2 separate regions of the Homo sapiens genome follow, and region 2 is linked to region 1. Evidence: fine-mapped expression QTL. A gene starts in region 1. The other region holds a variant in brackets. All regions are shown on one strand. Distances are between the middles of the regions. Region 1 holds the start of HOMER3-AS1 (HOMER3 antisense RNA 1). Region 2 holds the start of LOC124904654 (a long non-coding RNA gene).

Region 1 (2,902 bases):
TGGCCTAGGGTCGGGGAACAAAGTTCAAGGTAGATGGGACAGATACTAACAAACATGAAACCCCCCAGGTATTACCTTGTATTAGGGTCTTGAAGGTCTTTACTCTGAACCCTTTCAGGAGATAGAGACTAGGGCCTGGGAAGGCTTAGGGTTTCCTGTCCCTTGGGCACACAGCAAGCCAGCCACCAGACCCAAGGTTGTCACCAGGACTCCTGGTGCCTCTGCCCCACCCAGACCCCACCCTGACCTTGGCGCCTCCGATGCTGATGATGCGGTACACATTGCGGGTGGCATCGTAGAAATAGGAGACAGTGAGTGCGTGCTTGCCCGCTGGGATCCAGTTTCGCTTGGTGGCTGGGTCAATTTGGAACACGTGCGCCCGTGTGCTGAAGATTGGCTGCTCCCTGCGTGGGGAGAGGGTGTTTGGTGGGGGCCAGGCACCCCCACTTAGAAAGCTCAGGGCCAGGCTGGGGGAGGTGGGAGCTCACCTGGCTGTGGACATTGGTCAGGCTGGGATGGGCAGGCTCTAGGGGGCAGCCAGAGAGGTGGCAGGAGCACTGGTTTGGCCCCTAGGGAGAGAGGAGGGACTATGAGTGTCCCTCAGGCCAGGCTGAGGGAGGCCAAGCAGGTTCCATCTCAGGACCCATCACCAGGTGTGCCCGTCATGGAACTTTCAATCAAAAAGGCAGGAGAGGCCCAAAGTACACCTGGTGCTTTGGGAGGCTGAGTCAGGAGGATCCTTTGAGCCCAGGAGTTCGAGACCATCCTGAGCAACATGGCGAGACCCCATCTCTACCAAAAATTTAAACAATTAGCTGGGTGTGGTGGCATGTGCCTGCCGTCCCAGCTACTGGGGAGGCTGAGGTGGGAGGATCACTTGAGCCCAGGAGGTCAAGGCTGCAGTGCAGTGAGCTATGGTCAGGCCACTGCACTCCAGCCTGGACAAGAGAGTGAGACCCTGTCTCAAAAAAGAAAGAAATTATAAAAAGAAACAAAAAGGTAAGATAATTATTATAGATAACTCAGAGCAAGCAGACCCCATCTTTCTTTGTCTAGGGGAAGCCCCCACAACACCCTGTACAGGAGATGGCCCTCTGAGAGGAGCCTGGTGGCCGCTGACATCCAGATGTAAATTTCTCATTGTCCTGGTTATTGCACCCCCGTGAAGTCCCCTCCATCCCAGGCTGAGCTGTGGAGGCCAAATCTCTGCTGAGTTCTTTCCACCACATTCACCCATGACTGGCCAGAGCGGGGCTCTCCACCAAAAAATGGGGCGTTGAGAGGTGTGTAGTACCAGGAGACCAGTTCCCCACTACACCCTGCAGAGGGACCCCACCCCCAGCAGCTCCCACCCTAGGGCAGAAGCACACCTTGAAGTCCAGAGTCCAAATCCCCAGGGAGCCCCCAGCCAAGTTAAAAAGACAAGATGTAGACAAACAGCCAATCCCAATGCCCACCATGAGGGCAGAGCAGAATCCACACTGGGAGACCAGGGCTCCCCAACCTCCCCATTGGGCCATTCAGCAACCCCGAATCTGCAGGGGACCAAGGAGGAGTTTGGAGGAGGGGGAAGACAGGTGGGGGAGGGGAGGCCCTGGCCCAGCGGCCTCTGTGGTCAAAGGGGGGATGCCCCCCCTATCCTGTCCTGGGCAGCTGCTGTCCTGGTCACAGGGTCTGAAACCGGAGCCCCTGAGTGGGGGTGGGGCGGCAGCTCTGGCCTGGACTGGGGGCGGGTCCTGCGCCGGGTGGGAGTTGGGGAACACAGGGGTCCCCGGAACCCAGGCCCTTCCGGTCCGGCAGCTCCTGCTGCGACTTGCAGCGTTTGGGGAAAGTTACTCACCAACTAGTCATGCGCCTCGGATGCCGCCGGCCACGGGGCTCCCGGAGGGGGGTCCGACACCGCCCGGTGCCCGGGATCCCCAATCTGGCCGGTGGATGAGGCCCCATCCCATGCACCCGAGTGCGGGGGACGGGGGGGTTAATATTAATTCAGGATCCCATCCCCACCCGAGGCAGGACACCCAGTGCACGCCCCAACTCCGGGACGCGGGCTCTGACCCTGGAACTTCCGAGATTCCCGCGACGCCCCCTGTCTCTGGGTCCAGAACTTCGGGGGACACCTCTTCTGCCTCCTCCAACCCCAGGTCGGTAACTCCGGGGACTCCCTTCGTGACTCCTCCTCTAACTGGGTCCGGGACCCCGGTCCTCCGCGTTGTCCTAGACTCCTAAACTTCGAGGACCCCCTGCCACCCCTCCAGTCCCTGGGTCCGGGACGTCCGGACCCCTCCCACCCCAGTACCCCACCCCAGGTCCGCAGCTTTGGGGACCTCTTCGCAGCCTCCTCCAACGCCGGGTCCAGAACTTTGGGAACCTCCCACGCAGTCCCCTCTCAGACCCTGAATCCAGAACTTCGGGACCCCCGCGCTCCCTCCAGCCCTGGAACTTGGGGACCCCTCGCGCCGCTCCCAGTCCCGGGTCCGAAACTTCTGGGGAACCCCCACGCCCTCCCCTTGGCCCTGGGACTTCGAGGCCCCCGCGCTCCCAGCGCAGGCTCGGCAGGCCGGGCTCACCCTGCCAGGTCGGCGCCCCGCGAGTGTCCAGGCGCGAGTCGGGTGCGGCCCCCGCGGCGCTGACTCCGCGCTGCCGGGCGCCCCGCTCGCTCCCTGGCTCCCGGGCCCGCGCCCTCCGCGCCGCCCTCCACGCCGCCCGTGCCTTTGTCTGCGCCGCCGCCGCCCGCGCCGCCTCCGGTCCCATCGCGGCCGGTCCCGACGCGGCCGCCGCCCGCCCCGCCTCCCCGGGCCGCCAAGGCCGCCCCGCTGCGCCCCCTGCCGGCTTTTTGCACTGGGAGAGGGTATGGGGGAGGGGATAAGGGGGAGGGGCGGGGGCCGGGACTGGGGAAGGG
Region 2 (2,902 bases), 610 kb before region 1:
TTGCAAACTCCTATTCATCGTTGAAACCTCTGCTTCGGTGTCCCCTTGTGGCAGCCAGTGGTTACTGCAGTTTTTTTGTTTGCCCTTTCAACAGTAAGGGTGGCCAATCAGCGTTCCCCATCCCCCTGGCTACAGGGATTGGTTAAAGAAAGAGCACGGAATTTACCAAGGCCAATGAGATTCTCCCCTGGGAAGGATACCGAGGGCTGGGAGGGAGAAGAGCTGGTTCCTGGGGAGTTAAAGGGAAAGTCCAGCACCCCTTAGGCTCTGTCCTCTGGAAGAAGCTTTCTGCAGAAATAATCCAGCAGACACAAGACAACGGAGGTACTCGGTGGAAAGGGAAGTATGGTTTGAGCCCCTGGATCCAGCTATAGTTGAAGCCACAGCTATGATGAGCTTAAATGAGCCCAAGAAGTTTTTTTTAATTGCTTCATCCACTTGGAATTTGCAGTCTGTCCCTGGCAAAAGAGCCAGTACTAATGCATATCTGCTCTGTGAACTCTTCCTTAGCTGCCTTGCTCAAAAGCTAATCATTCCTTCTCTTATACTTTGAACTTTAGTACCCTCCACTGATTTCCATCATTGCCTGGTTTATGCCATGTTGTAATTGCTTGTTTCAGCCCTCTCAACTTTGACTTGTAGGAGCAAGGACCTAAGAGGTTTCCTGGGGCTCTATTTGGGGCTGTTCAGGACAGTTTACCCTCCCCTATCATCATGAATGCATGACCCAGGCTGGGGCAATCAGAAGGCTTCCCTGGCTGGCTGAGCATGGTGGCTGATGCCTGTAATCCCAGCACTTTGGGAGGCCGGCCGGTGGATCACCTGAGCCCAGGAGTTCGAGACCAGCCTGGGGAACATAGCGAGACCTCATCTCTCCAAAAAAAACTTAAGAAGAATTAGCTGGGCGTGGTGGCACGTGCCTGTAATTCCAACTACTTGGGAGGCTGAGATGGGAAGATGGCTTGAGCTTGGGATTTCGAGGCTGCAGTGAGCCATGATCATGCTACTGCACTCTACCCTGGGTGACAGAGCGAGATCCTATGAAAAAAAAAAAAAAAATCTTCCTTGGGATGGTTTTGGGATTGCAGAGCTGGAGTGATCGGCGATCACAGTCAGGTATAGCCATGGCCATTTCTTCACTGCAGAGTCATGGCCGTGTCTAAGCCTGAGCCCAGCTGTATCTGATGCTTCATAAATCTTCATTCTTCCGTATTCCACTAACCAAAATCCTATTCTGGATCCAGCTTAAATTATATTTCTGACCGGGCACAGTGGCTCACACCTGTAATCCCAGCAATTTGGGATGCCAAGGCGGGTGGATCACCTGAGGTCAGGAGTTCGAGACCAGCCTGGCCAACATGGCAAAACCCTGTCTCTACTAAAAATACAAAAATTAGCCAGGCGTGGTGGTGGGTGCCCGTAATCCCAGCTACTCAGGAGGCTGAGTCAGGAGAATCACTTGAACCCAGGAGGCAGAGGTTGCAGTCAGCCGAGATCATGCCATTGCACTCCAGCCTGGGCAACAAGAGCAAAACTCTGTCTCAAAAAAAAAAAAATTGTATTTCTTCCAGCAGAAACCTAAGAAGTCTAGATCAATGTACGTCTCCAACTAACAAAAATACCCTACCCACTACTAAAAAAAAAAGAACAGCATAAAAGCCAGTACTGGCAAGGTTGTGATGAAACTGGCAAA[CAT/C]GTGTTTCCTTTTAAATGGGAAAAAAGTTGGTATTATATCTCAAAAGCTATAAAAGTATCACACCCTTCAGCTCAGCAATCCATTTCTGAACATTTCTACTAAGGAAGTCTTTCGGGTGAAGGGAACCACCATGCCAGGGCCTCACAGCAATATCGCCAATTCTAAAAGAGCAATATTTTGCTGGGCGCAGTGCCTCACACCTGTAATCCCAACACTTTGGGAGGCCAAGGCGGGTGGATCACTTAAGGTCAGGAATTCAAAACCAGCCTAGCCCAACATGGCAAGACCCCGTCTCTACTAAAGGTACAAAAACTAGCCAGCCATGGTGGCGTGTGCCTGTAATCCCAGCTACTTGGGGGGCTGAGGCATGAAAATCGCTTGAACCTGGGAGGTAGAGGTTGCAGTGAGCTGAGATCACGCCATTGCACTCCAGCCGGGGCAACAGAGTGAGACTCCATCTTAAAAGTAAATAAGTAAATAGCAGGTTTTTTTAAAAAAAATTAGCTGGGCCAGGCGAGGTGGCTCACGCCTGTAATCCCAGCACTTTGGGAGGCCAAGGCGGGCGGATCACGAGATCAAGAGATCAAGACCATCCTGGTCCACATGGTGAAACCCCATCTCTACTAAAAATACAAAAATTAGCTGGGCATGGTGGTGATCACCTGCAATCCCAGCTGTTTGGGAGGCTGAGGCAGAAGAATCGCTGGAGTCCAGGAGGTGGAGGTTGTAAAGAGCTGAGATCGCGCCAGTGCACTCCAGCCTGGGCAACAAGAGTGAAACTCCGTCTCCAAAAAAAAAAAAAAAGGAAACGCAGACACCCTCCTGGGTTGCGCTTCGCTGGTCAAGGCAGTGACCCTCTCCCATCCGGGGAACCAGGAGCCTCACATGGATCAGGCCCTTCCTGATCCATGGCCACCTGAGCTGAAACAAAATATCATTTGTACCTTGCCCAGTGCATTCCTGGGGTGCAGGCAACCAAAGAACAGAGGTTCATTTGCCCCTGTCCTTGGCCGCCTTCATATCCCAGAGTCAGAAGAAGCAGAGATTCCTCAAATGGGTTTTGTTTTGTTTTGTTTTGTTTTTGTTTTTGTTTTTACTATTTTGAGACGGAGTTTCGCTCTTGTTGCCCAGGCTGGAGTGCAGTGGCGTGATCTCAGCTCACTGCAACTTCTGCCTCCTGGGTTCAAGCAATTCTCCTGCCTCAAC

Evidence for each region.
Region 2: its variant is fine-mapped to the expression of HOMER3-AS1 in prostate (GTEx, PIP 0.98).

What each region holds. Positions count from the first base shown.
Region 1 is chr19:18,938,481-18,941,382 of GRCh38, forward strand. It overlaps HOMER3-AS1 (HOMER3 antisense RNA 1), which reads left to right and starts at 1,774. Exons shown (of 3, transcript NR_134913.1): 1 at 1,774-2,144. It overlaps HOMER3 (homer scaffold protein 3), which reads right to left and starts at 2,737. Exons shown (of 10, transcript NM_004838.4): 1 at 2,571-2,737; 2 at 489-569; 3 at 248-404; 4 at 1-4. The coding sequence starts at 502. RefSeq lists a silencer at 2,701-2,900.
Region 2 is chr19:18,328,456-18,331,357 of GRCh38, forward strand. LOC124904654 (a long non-coding RNA gene) reads left to right here and starts at 270. Exons shown (of 2, transcript XR_007067158.1): 1 at 270-324. The variant CAT/C (reference allele first, on the strand shown) is at 1,694.